Linked DNA regions of Homo sapiens: region 2 is linked to region 1. Evidence: fine-mapped expression QTL. A gene starts in region 1. The other region holds a variant in brackets. All regions are shown on one strand. Distances are from middle to middle.

What was found. PIP is the estimated chance that this variant, and not a neighbour inherited with it, causes the effect.
Region 2: its variant is the best candidate, but not a certain one, in a credible set for the expression of CACFD1 in subcutaneous fat (TwinsUK, PIP 0.60).

Annotation. Positions count from the first base shown.
Region 1 is chr9:133,455,666-133,463,991 of GRCh38, reverse strand. It overlaps CACFD1 (calcium channel flower domain containing 1), which reads right to left and starts at 4,014. Exons shown (of 5, transcript NM_017586.5): 1 at 3,805-4,014; 2 at 437-509. The coding sequence starts at 3,925. ADAMTS13 (ADAM metallopeptidase with thrombospondin type 1 motif 13) reads right to left here. Exons shown (of 29, transcript NM_139027.6): 26 at 7,777-7,923; 27 at 7,273-7,449; 28 at 5,898-6,082; 29 at 4,606-5,018. The coding sequence ends at 4,812. RefSeq lists enhancers at 763-822, 1,000-1,556, 6,251-6,545, 6,069-6,936 and silencers at 3,499-3,798, 4,089-4,188, 4,199-4,418, 7,387-7,539.
Region 2 is chr9:133,251,963-133,260,288 of GRCh38, reverse strand. It overlaps the pseudogene ABO. Among named protein-coding and RNA genes, the nearest start is that of OBP2B, 47 kb to the right of the region's middle. RefSeq lists enhancers at 1,211-2,195, 4,340-4,872, 7,632-7,850, 6,875-8,326, a silencer at 5,768-6,555 and a cis regulatory region at 7,688-7,733. The variant C/A (reference allele first, on the strand shown) is at 4,326.

The DNA.
Region 1 (8,326 bases):
TGCCCTCTCCCAGCAGACCATTCAACCCAGTCCTCAGCCAGCCCCAATGAACAGCCTTCCCCACCCCAGTCCTGGGAGCTCCCAGAGGGCGAGGGCCCCAGTATAGTGGACTTGGCATCTGCAGTCTCAGTGGATGCTCCAGAAATGTCTGGAGCACTGATGGCCTTGCCCCTGCACCGGATGAAGGCCGGGGTGGGCATTCCCTGGGCCTTGACCTCTCATTAGGAAACTAAACATGGTGGGGGTATGAAGGGGAAGAAGCCGCATGCTGTGGCCAGAAACTCACATGCCCGAGGCACCCAGGCTGGAGCCAGTAGCCATGGCAACCACAAGGATGCCCACTCCCACGGCCCCTGCCACTCCTCTGTCCCGGGAGGTGCCCAGCAGATTCCCGACCAGCAAGACCCCCGGGGTGGGACGGCCATGCATTACTCACATCATCCACACGCCGGCCGCAATGTTCAGAGGGTGGATGGTGATGCAGTTGAAGAGGCCAGAGATCGCGCAAGCTTGAAACAAGAGACACGGGCAGGAGTCAGCAGGGAGGCAGGCGGAGCCCGCTGGGAAGGCGGCCTTGGGAGATGACTGGAAAGGACGAGAGTCTCTGCGGATGCTCAGCACACAGTTCTCACAGCACCCAGAAGCCTGCCCTCTATCGTCTGAGACAGGTGAGGAGACGCAGAGAGGTGCAGTGCCTTGCTTGCCCCAGGCCCCACAGCAAGGTGGCAGCAAGGTGGCAGGTGGATCTCACAGCATCCTCTCCCCGTTTCAGGGCTCAGAGGAGCTGGCCCTCTGACCCCAGCTACATCAATATCCACCTCAAAGGGAGGTTAGGATTAAAGAAGGATTAAAGAGTGAATGTCCCTCAAGGATTCAGGCCAGTGCTCCCCCAAGACTCAGCCTTCGGTAAGGGTCACTTGCCACCATTCACAGGGCCGGCCACACAAGAAGTCCTCTGACTCAGAAAATGTGGCTTGGATTTTGGTTGGGACAAGGGGTGCCTCTCTCAGAACAGAGATGGGAACCAGGTAAGACTGAGCAGCAGTTCCAGCTCTAACTTCCTCACCAGCCCTGTGCCACTGGCACGCTATCTTCATCTTCCTAGACCCGTTTCTCCTCTTGCACATGAGCAAGTCCCACAGCCCAGCCACCCACCGCTGAAATGCCATAAGGCCAGGAAGGGGAGGGGGCATCGTTTTCCACCCCAGAACGTGGCTTCTCTGATGCTCAGATGTGCAGCCTTGACGCCCCGCCTCCCAGCTGCACCTCACCAGCAGGGTCTCTTGCACCCAACTCCCTCCTCCACCCACAGCCTGCAGCCTGGCTTCACCAGGAACTCCAGGAGCCTTCAAGGCAGGTCCAAGGAGGTGGCTGCTGGGCAGGGAGCAAGCCCAGGCCATCACTGAGGGGGGCCTTGGAGGCAGCAATTAGCACCCAGCTCATTAAACTTGCAGCAGCTCCTCTGCACCTGATCCCTCCACCTGGGTCTGGAATTCTGCTGTTTTCCATTTTCCCAGGTAACCTTATGCAGACAGCAGGCAAAGAAGCCAGATAAAGTGAGCCGAACTGCAATGGGACTGCTTCATGGGCCCCCAGGGTCTCCTTCTAAAACAAAGGACTCAAGCGTTGCACTGCTCCTCAGCACAGCCTTAGACATCTGCCTTCAGACAGCAAGGTGTTCCAGAACCACAGGTACACAGGGGCCTGCCTGTCCTAGCAGAGTGCCCAAAGGGTGACACGGCTCCCTGCCTCTCTGCTGTGCCTGGCCTCACCTGACAGCTCGGCTGTGCTTCCTGCTGCAGTCAGCATTTGGCCTCCAGCTCCAACCCTACCCCAGCTGTCCAACCCACAGCCAGCCTTGGGGGAGGACCAGGTGTCAAGCCAGACCAGCAGGCTCCAGCCAGGAATCCTTTAGCAATAAAGGGCTGGAGGATGTCCACTTGGGGGCCTCAATGCTGATATCTTCCACGTGAGGGGGCTGTCACCATGCAATCCTGTCCCCTCCCAAGGTATCACCTCCAGATGCTCTTAGGACCCAGGGTAGACCCTCTCCAGGTACTCTCTCTGATCCCCTCACCCTGGAGGAGGAAAACCTTACCCAAGGACCAGCCCGGCACACAACCCTTGTCTGAACTCCTGCCGCATCTCTAAAACACCCTGCATTTTTGCATTCTACCCTGTAATACAGCATTTTGATGTTCACATAACCATGCCCCCAAAAATCTGCAGATGCAACTGACAACTCAGGGCAATGCCACAAGTTTCTCCTGAAGCTTCATCTGTAGACCCAACAGAGCCCCAGGAACTCCCAGGAAAGGCAGAGGTACCTCACTTTGAGAGGCACAGAACTGAGTAAGACTCCACAGCAAATCTGGGAGTCGGCAGGGCCACTGACCAAGAAGGAAGGAGGTGTGGCCTACAGGCCATAGTCAGGACCTTTCCTTTCTCACCACTGACCATGTCACCCCACTGCACTGCCCACCCTAATCTGCAGGGAAAACAGCTAACCAGACATGACAGGACTGGATCCAATGCCTAACTTCAAACCCACCAGTCTCTCCTACAAAGTCAAAAGCGTACTTGCCCTGAAGAGCAGTGACACAAACTCGGGGCCTTTTTGTGATTTGGGGGTAGGGCCTGCCCTACCGTATCCGTTGCCTCTGGATAAGGGCATGCCTAGCGAGGGCAGCACACTCCTAGCCCAGCACCCTCCTGCCTCAACCTCCCTCCACCCTCTACCCACCTGGAAAGGCTGTGGAACCCAAGGTGACCCTGAAAAGGTGGTCCTTCTGGCAGGATTGCTGATGGGGCCTGCCCTGCCCAGGCCCAGAGCTAGCCCTCTCTGCCAGGCAGGCACTGTTTAAAACCTGCAGACATCCTCGACAGACATTCTCTAAGACCTTGCCCACTCCAGTAATCCACAAGATTGAGGGCAGACAGGAAAGGAAAGGGTATCACTCAGACAGACTTGTCTTTCCCTGGAAGGCCAGCTGTACGGCTTCCATTCACTCCTGGAGCTGACCTGCCTCCCTCTTTGTCCTTTTCTGGCTGTGCTTAAGAGCCTAGCTTCCCTGGCAGCCTAAGGTCAGGGTCTGTGACTGGGATGCGTGCGGAGAAGGGGAGGAAGGCCGGTGACAGGCGGCTAAGGCAGCAGCAACGGGGGAGATATGAGAGCGGACAGAGGACCCAGGGAGAGGCCGGGCCCTCAGCTCACTGCCCCGCGGCCCCAGGGGCCACCTGTGCCCTGACACCACCTGACCCTCAGCAAACTTCCGCCCAGTGGCTTCCTGCCAGAAATCTAGCCAGCCGTGCACCCGCCTCCCTTACAAACAATCCTTGCCCAAAGGTTAGCAATGTGGCTGCCGTCACCTACGCCCAAGTCAACAGTTGACGCTTTAGTACGGGCCAGGTGGGCATGCGCCCCGTGAGCATCACCGAGAAAGTCTCACAAAAGCCCCTGGGGAGCGGGGGGAGGGCTCAGTCACGTGCCCCAGGCCGGTGCCCCACCCCCGCCCCCGCCGCCCCCCCGCCCTGGGGTTTCTGGTCCCTCCGGGAATGTTCCCAGAAGCGCCAGCCCAGCCCAGCCCGGGGTACCAAGGCGCCCAGGCCCGAGCGGGTAACCATGGCAACCCCAGGACGCCGGCTCCCGGCGGCCCCGCCATTCCTCCGCCCCGGGAGGCGCCCGGCAGACCCCCGACCCCCAGCGGGTCCTTTCCCCTGGGGCCGCCGGGGCGGGGCGGGGCAGGGCAGGGCGAGGAGCGCATGCGCGGCGGGGCCGGCCCCTCTCCCCGACTGGATACTCACAGACTGCCCCCAGCACCCCAGACAGGCGACACAGCCAGCGGTACCACCACGTCATGCCCTCTTCCTGCGCGGGCGGCGCAGAGCTGGCGGACGCCCCGGGCGCCCCACCTGAGCTGCTCATGGTGCCACCGTCAGGCGCAGCTCACAGCCCTCACAAAGGGCTCGGTAGCCGGCCGCGTCCGAGCCGGCGCGCTGCCTTGTGGGAGAGGGAGCATATTAGCATAGGGGGCGGGGCTTTCAGGCTGCGGCGAGGCGCGCCCGAAGGGAGGCGGGTGCTCATTAACATAGTGAGCGGGACCCTCATGCCGCGACTAGGGGCGTTTGAGGGGAGGTAGGTGCTCATTATTGTAGGGGGCGGGACCCGCAGGCTGCGGCGAGGAGCTGGGGGTGGGGAGCTCGTTAGCATACGGGGCGGGGCTCGCAGGCATCGGAGAGGTGTGCCCGAGGGGGGCGGGCGTCATTAGCGTAGGGGGCGGGGGCTCGCAGTTTGCGGCGACTTGCTCCCAAAGGAGGCGGGCGCTTATTAGCATAGGGGGCGGGGCCTGGAGGCGCGCAGACACCTTAGCGGTCAGAGCCTCACACCAGGACACACGGGTGGGGCTTCGCAGGGAGCTGGCTAATGCGCCATCCTCGGAGTGGAATCCTGATTGGATTTTCTTCCTGGATAGGAAGAAGATAACTAGGGACGTCCAGCGGCTTGCTCAGATCAAGATAGAGCCAACCGCGGCCAGCGAATCCCTGCCTTGCCATGGGATGGGTTTTCAAGCCAGGTCTGGACAGCTTATAAGAAAAAAACGCCGGTCAGCCTGCATGTTTTATTTATTGGTACCCGAGGAAATGGGGGCTGCTTTTCCAGAGTCCCCACCTCCAACCCCCTAGCCTTTTGGACATTGGAGAAGACTCTAAAGTAGATACCTAAGATTGGAAAAAGTTCGAATTGGAAAGCACTGAGACCAGGGGTCAACCCTCCAGGGCTGGCCAGACACGGAACAAATGTTCAATGACCCTCAGGTTCCTTCCTTTCCCTTCCAGGACTGAGGGTCCTGCATCTCCGGTACCCATGATTGGAGGGTCCAGTACTGGCCCCGCAGGCTGGCCTGAGCCTTCAGGAAGCCCTCGCTGAACTCCATCTCAGCCTGGCTGCTCTCTGACTCCCAGTAGAGCACCTGCTGCCCATGGAACGCTGTGGTCCTCAAGCTGTGGGTGTCCCGGATCTGAGAGAAAAGGGGCAGCCCAGAAGGACCGGCCACAAGTAATAATTAGCACTCACGGAAGCCTTCGTGTGCAAGGGCTCACAGATTCCGGATCACATTTAATGCTTACAAAGCCCTACTAGGAATACGCCATTACTCTACCCAGAAAACCGAGGTCCAGGGACGTTACATCACTTCCCCAAGGACACACAGTCAGGGTGCCAGAGCGGGGCCAGGCTGCCTCCTCTGGGGAAGCTGATACCCTGCAGAACACAGTTCTCCCAGGACACTTGAAACCTCGGGGAGGGTGCAGGGTGCTATTCTGTCCAAGTTATATCAGACTGTAAAATTATGCTTCAGTCTTGGGTTAGCTGTCAGTCTACATCAGAAAGGTCTTTACCATTCTTTACCATTTCGCTTTTTTTTTTTTTTTTTTTTTGAGACAGAGTCTCACTCTGTTGCCCAGGCTGGAGTGCAGTGGTGCGATCTGGGCTTAGTGCAACCTCCACCTCCCGGGTTCAAGTGATTCTTGTGCCTCAGCCTCCCAAGTAGCTGGGATTACAGGCACACGCCACCATGCCTGGCTACTTTTTCTATTTTTAGTAGAGACAAGGTTTCATCATGTTGGCCAGGCTGGTCTCGAACTCCTGACCTTGAGTGATCTGCCCTCCTGGGCCTCCCAAAGTGCTGGGATTACAGTTGTGAGCCACTATTTCACTCTTGTAGGTAGCTCAAAAAACATTTCTTGGTGAATATGTGGAGGAAGCTATCTTCTCCCATTCTTTCACTAATGATTTTGAGGGTTTTAGTCTGAAATAAACTGAAGGGGGTCCCCTAGCCCTGCACGCCCTAGGGAAAGCTGTCCAGAATCACAGCACAAGTCCCCATGCTGGGCCTCACCAAGATGTAGCTGGCATTGGCTCCCTCGGTCCCAGCGCCCATGTTGGTGGCCAGGGCATGGATGGCAATCCGTGCGTGCGGAGCCACATTAATGAAGAGCCGGCAGCCCCCTGCATTACTCGTGGCTGGACTCAGCGAGGGGCTCACGATTTCACCCCAGGGCCCAAAGAGCTGCATGTCACATTCTGCAGGTGGGACATAGGGACATAGGAACCCAGACAGACCGGTGGTGCCAGAGGCCAGGACAACTCACAGCCAGGGAGCCGTGCAGGGCAGCATGGCACTGTGGTCAATATTGGGGTTCCCAGGCAAATCCTGCTGAACCCCACCTCTACCACTTCCTGGCCCAGTGACTTTAGGCAAAGGCTAAATGTTCTGGGCTCTGGTTCCCTCCTCTGTAACTGAAGGAAACAATGGCATGCACTGAGCAGAGTGGTCTTTAGGACTCAATGATGTCACACGTGCAAGAGTGTTTAACACTGAAACTGGCAACAAAGATAGGCTCCACCCATGGCGGCCACTGCTGTTCCTCAGAGCTCACTGGAGCCCCCACCTGCCTGTACCTCCTGCACCTCTTTCAAGGCAGATGCCTGTGTGGGCGGGGCTGGGCCGGGAAGCGAGAAGCAATGTGAACGGTGACAGTGGGCTTGTGGCCTTTTGGCAGGGCCCAGCAGCGCCTGTGCACTGGGACACATACACGGCTCTCTGCCCGGGCAGGTCTGGGGCAAGGAGGCGGCGCACTAGGTCTCTGCAGAGGCTAAGCCCCTGTTGCCACTAAGCCCCAGACACCTGGGGGAGCCGAGGAACCTCTGGAACCAGCTAGGGAAGCCAACTTCGGCCAGCTCGGGCTGTTGGGAGAGGGCAAGCCCCCCAGGACAACCGAGAGGGCTATCAGAGGATATCGAGGGGGCCACGGGCAAGGCTGGAGTCCCTGAGGTGGCATCCTCTGCCTGAGGTGTGCTTGTGGGTGCACATGCATGTACAAGCATGTCTGCTTACACCAGTGCACTGAAACAGGGCTGAGGGACAGTGGCTTCCACAAAACCCTAAAAGCCCTTGAAAGGCTGGAGGGGTGGGGGCGGGGCAGGTGGGTGTGGGGCAGAGGCCTGAGGGACTGACTGAGGATGTGGACCATGTCCCACATCCGTCCATCTTGCTGCACGGTCCCAAAAAGGAGGGATATAGCATTCATCCTGTGACCCCTCCCTGGCACGTGCAGACTGACACTGGCCAACCCCAGTTCCTTCCATCTCAGTCAGTTCCCTCCGTATCTTCCCACTGCCCCACTGGGACTGGCCCCATCCCCAGCAGCACCCACCCAGCCTCCCTGCCAGGACTGGAGCACCCAAGGGAGGTGGAGAAGGCCTGGCCATACCTCTGTAGAAGGTTTCAGGAGCAAGCTGGCTCCCATACCGCAGCAGCACCCCACCTCCTGGCCGCCCGCAGCGCTGCCTCACCACCAGCGTGTTGGTCTTGGAGCTGAAAGTCATGTCCAACAGCTTCCTGCACATCTTCCTCCAGGTGAGCCGGCCCCAAAGCAGCAACATGTCCCCTAGGAAGCGGCAGGGCAGTGAGGGTCCAGCACTCCCACGCCTGGTCAGCAGAGGAGTGGCTCCAGGGTAGACTGAGCCGAGTTCAAGTCCCACCTCTCCCACTGCTGGCTATGTGACTCTAAGTAACTGGGCACATCACTTAATCTCTCCTAGCCTCAGTTTCCTCATCTGTAAAATGCAGATCATCACTCCCCAGTCATGAGATGGGATGCAAACTACAGGTGGGAATGCACATGGGCTCCTGCCAGGAATGGGGCATGCAGCGTCGTGCTGGCTCCTGGCAGGGCCCATAACTGGCAGCATCGCTTGCATGGCCCTAGACATACCCGCACTGCAGTTGAGAGAACTCTCAAGGACGCGGAGGGTCACCACCTCCCCGAGGGGCCGCCCAATGGCCACTGCACAGTCTGCCTGCCCTGGGCCTCGCATGTCAATGGTTCCTGTTGGCTCAAGGTGCTGCCTGCCACAGGCACCTGAAAAGGGAGCAGGAGACAGGTAAGCAGTGCTTCCCCGATTCCCAGCAGGGCAGGCTCCGGGGCTTCCAAGCTGAGGAAGGAGACCAGGAGGTAGGGGTGGACCCTGTCCTCCAAGGCCCAGCTGGAAGCCTTCTCAGGACAGGGAGGGGGGCTGCATAGGTCAGAGCATCACCCTCAGGGCACAGGGCTGCTACCAGATGATCCAGCAAGAGGGGGCACATGCAGAGCAGCCCAGAGGCTAGGGGGCTCACAAGCTGGGTTCCTACCTTCAAGTTACTTCCCCTTGATAGTAGTAAAAGGGAGGTTTTGCTTTGCCAGGGAGAAAGAGGGCCAGCCCTGATCCCGGCCTCCCAGGCACACAACCCAGGGACCAAGTGCTTGTGCCAGTCCTTCCCAGAGG
Region 2 (8,326 bases), 200 kb after region 1:
CCTTTTTGGGCCTGGCTTCAGAAGTCACCCAGCATCACTTCTGCTGCATTTATTTCTTAGAAACACAGAATATCAGACCCCATCTCTTGATGGGAGGGGGCCTCATGGTTTGTAGACATGTTCTGAAACTCCACTCTGCCCGGCCTTGGCTTCGACGTGTCTGGTGAATGTGTGGGCTGTGAGGCTCCCCGAACGTAGACCTCAGACTGCAACGCTGGCCGTTACAGGGTCTGGCACACGGGCCCACGTCAGGCCCATCGCCACAGTGATGGTTGTTCTGTGACTGTTTCTGGTGGCCTCTGCTCCACACTCCAGGCTGACGCTGTGCCCCTTCCACTGGGACCCTCGGGTGGCTTCCATGCACTTGTGCCCTAAATCCTGCTCCTAGACTAAACTTCATCTCCTGTGTTCTCATTCTGCAGCATGGCTGTTAGGGAACCTGACCATCTGCAGCGCGTCTCGTTGCCAAGGTATAATGTCAGTGCCTCCCTTCAGTGGCTCCCATGTCACAGAATTGTCCTGCAGCCCTGGCACATGTGTGCCATGTGGGAGCTGGGGCAGGTCCTCTTTCCTCCTGTGGCTCCGAGGGAGGGGGCCGCTCCTTCCCCAGTCTCTACCCTGACTTGGCCCTCGTCCTGCAGCCACTCAGAGAGCACGATGGAGCTGGAGCTTCAGTTTTGACCAAATGCGTGTCGCCGGCTTTTGTGTGTGTGTGTGTGTGATGGAGTCTCGCTCTGTCGCCCAGGCTGGAGTGCATTGGCACCATCTCTGCCCACTGCAACCTCTGCCTCCTGGGCTCAAGTGATTCTCCTGCCTCAGCCTCCTGAGTAGCTGGGATTACAGGCGCCCACCACCACACCTGGCTAATTTTTGTATTTTTAGCAGAGACAGCGTTTCACCATGTTGGCCAGGCTAGTCTTGAACTCCTGACTTCAAATGATCCGCCCGCCTCAGCCTCCCAAAGTGCTGGGATTACAGGCATGAGCCCCGGCACCTGGCCTTCAAATTGGCTTTTAAAGAAGATGACCAGCTGGTCTGTTCTGTCTGGGGCCTTGGAGGGCTGTTTCCCAGGATGTGGGCCTTTATCAGTGCTGACCTAGGCAATCAAGGCCAAGCTGGCCACACTGCTTTTGATTTTTTTTAAATTGTGATGAAATACGCTTAACATAAAATTTGCCATCTTAGTCATTTTGGAGTGTTCAGTAGCTTTAAGTCCATTCACATTGCTGTGCAGCCATCACCACCATCCATCTCCAGAACTCTTTTCATCTTGCCAACCTGAAGCTCTGTCCCCATAAAATAGCAACTCCATTTTCCCTCCCCCAGCTCACCATTCCATGGTCTGTTGTTATGAGTCTGCTACTCCAACTACCTTTTATAAGTGGAGTCAATGGTACCTGTGTTTTTATGTCGGGCTCAAATCACTGAGCGTGATGTCCTCACGGTCCATCCAGGTTGTACCAAGTGTCAGAATTTCCTTCCTGTTTTCTGCTGACTCCCTGCTTTTAAAGGCCATCTTGGACATTCAAATTGTGGCCATTACTGACAGTTAAAATGGCCCCGGCTCATGTCTCCTGAGCCTCTACAATCCTTTAGGTGGGGACAGTACTGCGGCCCACACGTCCCCACAGGCTGCGTGTGACACCTGACAGTGCTTTGTGCCACTGTGGAGCAGGTGTCACTCTCCCACTTCTCAGAGAGGAAGCCGGGCTCTGGAAGCCAGCAGCCCACAAGGAGGCCCAGCAGGCTTCGGGCCCAGGTGGGGAGGTCTGCACATCTCAGGGCCTTTCCCTGGGAACAACCAGGGACAGAGGCCACACACCCAGCCTCCTCTCTGCCCACAGTGAATTGAGACACAACCCCTTACGTCCCTCCCAGCCTTAAGTCAAGTGGAAAGCAATGGCCCCTGAGGTCACTTAGTCCCTCTTGCCAGTTTGTAAGTGCTGAATCAGAGACTCTGAGCTTTGGCCCTTTCCCGAGTTCCCGGGATTATGAGCTGACACAGCCCCCAAGCAACCACAGTGATTCCAGCCTGGGAGTGTGGCCTTGGCGGGAGGGTCAATGCCCAGTCATGGTTCAGCGGCTGTGCACACCCCTGCTTACCTGCATCCCACGCTTTCCATGCAAACTCACGTGGCGGCGCTTTGCGCTTGCAGGATGGTCTACCCCCAGCCAAAGGTGCTGACACCGTGGTGAGTAAAGTTACTGACACTGAAACTGAACGCAGCTCAAGGGGCTGTTCTGAAGGTATTAGAGGGCGGTTTCCTTGATGTAAATCTCAGTTGGGGCTGCTTCGTTCTCTCCTCTCAGATTCTCCTGACATCTGAATTCAGAGGCCCACATGGCTGTCCTCTTTCCCTTTGCTTTCTCTGACTTGCGTCTCTTGTTTCCTGTCCCTTTGTTCTCCAAAGCCCCTGCAAAGGCCTGATAGGTACCTCCTACCTGGGGAGGGGCAGCGGGGGTTGGGTGCTGGGGAGGGTTTGTTCCTATCTCTTTGCCAGCAAAGCTCAGCTTGCTGTGTGTTCCCACAGGTCCAATGTTGAGGGAGGGCTGGGAATGATTTGCCCGGTTGGAGTCGCATTTGCCTCTGGTTGGTTTCCCGGGGAAGGGCGGCTGCCTCTGGAAGGGTGGTCAGAGGAGGCAGAAGCTGAGTGGAGTTTCCAGGTGGGGGCGGCCGTGTGCCAGAGGCGCATGTGGGTGGCACCCTGCCAGCTCCATGTGACCGCACGCCTCTCTCCATGTGCAGTAGGAAGGATGTCCTCGTGGTACCCCTTGGCTGGCTCCCATTGTCTGGGAGGGCACATTCAACATCGACATCCTCAACGAGCAGTTCAGGCTCCAGAACACCACCATTGGGTTAACTGTGTTTGCCATCAAGAAGTAAGTCAGTGAGGTGGCCGAGGGTAGAGACCCAGGCAGTGGCGAGTGACTGTGGACATTGAGGTCTCTCCTTGTGTTCAAGACAGAGTGGGGTGGCGGCCAGCCTTGTCCTCCCAGAGGGTAGATGGGAAAGGTCATTCATGCAGCATCTTACTGAGCTCATGTGGGCTCGTGGGCTCGTGGGCTCGCCAGGTCGGTAAAACCCAGCTCCTTCTCCAGAGGCTGCGTCTCACCCAGGGATGGTGGCTTCTGCTGCCCCCTCCTCTCTGTAACTGTGGCCGGCCGTCATGCTGAGCCACCCCCTCAATACAAGGCTCCAGATGTTTCCTGCTCACTGACCAGAGATAGCAGGAGGGGGACACCTGTTTGCTGTCCTTGGACCCTAGAAAGAGGATGCTGGCAGAGCCGTGGTCACTTCTCTGTCAGATGTAGGTGGGGCAGGCAAAGCAGTTGGCCCCAGACACCAAAGGAAGTGGCTGACCCACAAGGCCCTGGGACTCTGGGCCAGGCCAGAGAGGGAGCTAGCCAGGCAACCGCAGACACATACTTGACTTCTCGGCAGCTGTGGGCAGCTGGGCCAGCGACAGTGGCGGAGGCCAGGAATGACTTACTCTTAGGAATAGGTGCAGTTCAAGCCTGGAGGGAGGAAGCTCTAGGGTGCAGAGGCGGGTGTGTGGAGGCCTCGCGTGCAGCTTATAATGAGGGAGCACGTGGCCGGCCTGGCCATAAGAGGGGCAGCTGCGTGGGGAGGCGTGGCTCAGGCCAGGCTGAGGGGGAGTGAGCAGACGCCAGCCTGCGGCCTGCTACCAGCCTCCAGCCACCTGCCCTCAGCCCTCCTTAGTAAGAGGGGGTGCTGGTGGTCCCCCATCGCTGGGAAGAGGATGAAGTGAATCGCAGCCCGAGGACTCGCTCAGGACAGGGCAGGAGAACGTGGTGCATCTGCTGCTCTAAGCCTTCCAATGGCCGCTGGCGGGCGGGTGCAGGACGGGCCTCCTGCAGCCCAGGGGTGCACGGCCGGCGGCTCCCCCAGCCCCCGTCCGCCTGCCTTGCAGATACGTGGCTTTCCTGAAGCTGTTCCTGGAGACGGCGGAGAAGCACTTCATGGTGGGCCACCGTGTCCACTACTATGTCTTCACCGACCAGCCGGCCGCGGTGCCCCGCGTGACGCTGGGGACCGGTCGGCAGCTGTCAGTGCTGGAGGTGCGCGCCTACAAGCGCTGGCAGGACGTGTCCATGCGCCGCATGGAGATGATCAGTGACTTCTGCGAGCGGCGCTTCCTCAGCGAGGTGGATTACCTGGTGTGCGTGGACGTGGACATGGAGTTCCGCGACCACGTGGGCGTGGAGATCCTGACTCCGCTGTTCGGCACCCTGCACCCCGGCTTCTACGGAAGCAGCCGGGAGGCCTTCACCTACGAGCGCCGGCCCCAGTCCCAGGCCTACAT[C/A]CCCAAGGACGAGGGCGATTTCTACTACCTGGGGGGGTTCTTCGGGGGGTCGGTGCAAGAGGTGCAGCGGCTCACCAGGGCCTGCCACCAGGCCATGATGGTCGACCAGGCCAACGGCATCGAGGCCGTGTGGCACGACGAGAGCCACCTGAACAAGTACCTGCTGCGCCACAAACCCACCAAGGTGCTCTCCCCCGAGTACTTGTGGGACCAGCAGCTGCTGGGCTGGCCCGCCGTCCTGAGGAAGCTGAGGTTCACTGCGGTGCCCAAGAACCACCAGGCGGTCCGGAACCCGTGAGCGGCTGCCAGGGGCTCTGGGAGGGCTGCCGGCAGCCCCGTCCCCCTCCCGCCCTTGGTTTTAGCAGAACGGGTAAACTCTGTTTCCTTTGTCCGTCCTGTTGTGAGTAACTGAAGCCTAGGCCCCGTCCCCACCTCAAATCACACACACCCCCTCCCCACCACAGAGACACCATTACATACACAGACACACACAGAAAGACACACACAGACACAAAATCACACACACACCCTCCCCGCCACAGAGACACCATTACATACACAGACACACACAGAAAGACACAGACACAAAATCACACACACACCCTCCCCGCCACAGAGACACACCATTACATACACAGACACGCAATCGCAGATACGCCCTTCCGGCCACAGAAACACACCATTACACACACATACACAGAAAGACACACACAGACACACAATCACACGCAGCCCCTCCCCGCCACAGAGACACACCATTACATACACAGACACACACAGAAAGACACACACAGACACAAAATCACACACACACCCTCCCCGCCACAGAGACACACCATTACATACACAGACACACACAGACACACAATCACACACAGCCCCTCCCCGCCACAGAGACACACCATTACATACACAGACACACACAGACACACAATCACAGATACCCCCTCCCGGCCATAGAGACACACCGTTACACACACATACACAGAAAGACACACACAGCCCCTCCCCGCCACAGAGACACACCATTACATACACAGACACACACACACACACAATCACACACACACCCCCCGCCACAGAGACACACCGTTACATACACAGACATACACACACACACAGACATACACCAGACACGCAAAGACACACAGACACAGATACACAGATACAAAGACACAGACATATAGACACACAGACATGCACAGAGACACATGGAGACACATGCAAAAATGCACAGAGAAAGACATACAGAAGTGTACACACAGACACATAGACCACACAGACACACAGACATGCATGCAAACACACAGACATGCAGACATGCACACAAACACAGACTCACGCACACAGACTTAGGCAGCCCAAATTCAGCGCCTGGGGCATAAGTTCCTGGAGGGGTGGCCACCTTCAGCCCCCACGGTAAGGTCCTGAGGAACCTTCCCCTTAGACAAGGGATCATGGAGGAGGTCTCTTCCGGAGCCTGGAGGGAGGCCTCAAGTGGTCCTTCCACCTCGGCATCCCAAAGTGCTAGGATTATAAGCATGAGCCACTGCACCTGGCCCCAACATCATTTATTGAACAGACTGTCGTTTCCACATTGTGTTTCTTGGCATTTCTGTCAAAAATCAGTTGACCGTAAATGCATGGATTCACTTCCGGGCTCTCTATTCTGTTTCATTGGTCTGTTTGTTTTTATGCCAATACCATGATGTTTTGATTATTATAGCTTTATAGTATATCTTGAAGTTAGGTAGTGTATTGTCTCCAGCTTTGTTCTTTTTGCTTAAGATTGCTTTGGCTATTTAGGGGTCTTTGTGGCCATTACTGACAGTTAAAATGGCCCTGGCTCATGTCTCCTGGGCCTCTACAGTACTTTAGGTGGGGAAGTACTGTGGCCCACATGTCCCAACAGGCTGTGTGTGGCACCTGACAGTGCTTTGTGCCACTGTGGAGCAGGTGTTACTCCCTCATACGAATTTTAGGATTATTTTATTTATTTCAGTGAAAAATGTCAATGAAATTTTGATAGGGATTGCATTGAATCTGTAGATTGTTTGGGGTTGTATGGACATTTTAACAATATTAATTCTTCCAATTCATGAACATGGGATGTCTTTTTTTTGGCACCTGATCTCAGATATGGGACAGCTTTCTAATTATTTGTATCTTCAATTTCTTTCACAAATGTTTTATAGTTTTCAGCATACAGATCTTTCACTTCCTTGGTTGGATTTATTTGCAAGTATTTTTTGTAGCTATTGTAAATGACATTGTTTTCTTGATTTCTTTGTTAGGGTATAGAAATGCTACAGATTGTTGTATGTTAATTTTATATCCTGCAACTTTACTGATTTCATTTATTCTAACATCTTATTGGTGGAATCTTTAGGGTTTTCTATAAGATCATGTCATCTGTAAACAGGGACAATTTAAGTTCTTCCTTTCCAATTTGGATACCTTTTATTTCTTCCTCTTGCCTAATTATTTTGGCTGAGGGCCAACTTGTTGGGTTTGTTGTTGTTGGTTTTTGTCTGTGTCTTTTGGTGTTTCGTGTTGCTGGCTTTTCCAGCACACAGTCACAGATATATGAGGCAGAAAGAAAACCCAGGGAACTCCTGTCATGTCATTCCTCAGGTCCCAAGGTCCCTACATGGTCTGCCTTCTTCTCTCCACCTTTTAGTGTTTGATATACATACGTTTATGTATGTAGTTATATATGTATGTGTAATACCCAGGGAAATATACAGAGATTTTAACTGTCCTTAGTGTAGGGCGTGGGGACAGGTGCATCTATTCTACCTTGCTTGGAAGTGGAAAAATCTTCAAGAAATCAATTTATCACCAACTGGCATGACAGAACTCCTGGTTTAGTGTCTAGCTGTCTCCACTAAAATCAATCACCATGCCATCAGGCACTCTCTTCCCTCTGGTGTGTACTGGTACCTGAAACAGCGTCCAGCACCCTGAGAGCACAGAACGCAGCTTCTTATGTGCCCCACCCAATAATCCCAAATCGAGCACAGACCTGGGAGCTGAAGAGACAAGCTGGAGGTCAGGCAGTTCTATTACTTAAGCCTGGTTCTTCCTGACTCCAAAAGCCAGGCGCCACCCCATGCTCCTTCCCAGCAGAAGCTGGTTTTCACCGGGTCAGGAGGACAGGATGGCTATTCCTGACCGTTGTACAGCAGTGCCACATCTCCTAGTTTCCAGAACATTTAATGTGTTGCTGTGGAGGCCTGGCAGCTCTGAAGTAGCCCCTTGCGCCCAGGACAAACCGGGCCTGGAGGGGTGGGGTGGGGTAAGCTGAAGCTTCCAGTATCCCACGTGGGCATTCTGTTGCTGAGGGCAACCGCCCCTCCCTGCAAGGGAGGGGAAGGAGCAGGCAGGCACACCCTTCCTCCCTCCACATTTCACTGGAGTTGACCTGTGTCCTACTGTGGTTGCACCTGGACCAGCCCAGAGGGACTGGAGTGACTCTTCCCGCAGGTAGGGCACAGCCAGCCTGGGCACAGGGCCTCACTGCAATCCCTGCGCCCCGCCTCCCTGGGGGATTTCCAGGGGTTGTCCTGCTGCTTGGTGAGCTGGGGGTGTGGGGGACCACAGATGAGGCAGGCGCCTAAATTGCTTGGGCGGAGTCCGGCTGCTCTCTCCCTCCAGGCCCTTTCCTGTGTCCTCGGGCCCCTCGGGTCCCTGCACCAGGCCAGCAGCAATCGGGTGTCAGAGGTTCAAGTCCAGGCTGACTCCTGGGACGCACCGACTTTGCCCAGGAGGGCTGGGGAGAGGGCAGCCCCAAAGTGTCATCTTTGATTATTCTTTGTCCCCAAAGCCAGCCTTGGGCATGTGCCCAGCACAGGGAGAGCTGCTGCCTCTGTGGGCTTGAGTCATTTTTGCTTCCTTGCCCCTCTCTGCTCTGTTTGGTTTAAAAAACAAAAACCAACACCCATGGGTGAGGCGAGGCGAGGCGAGGCTTGCCTTGATCCACCCGCTTCCTCCCCTGCAGC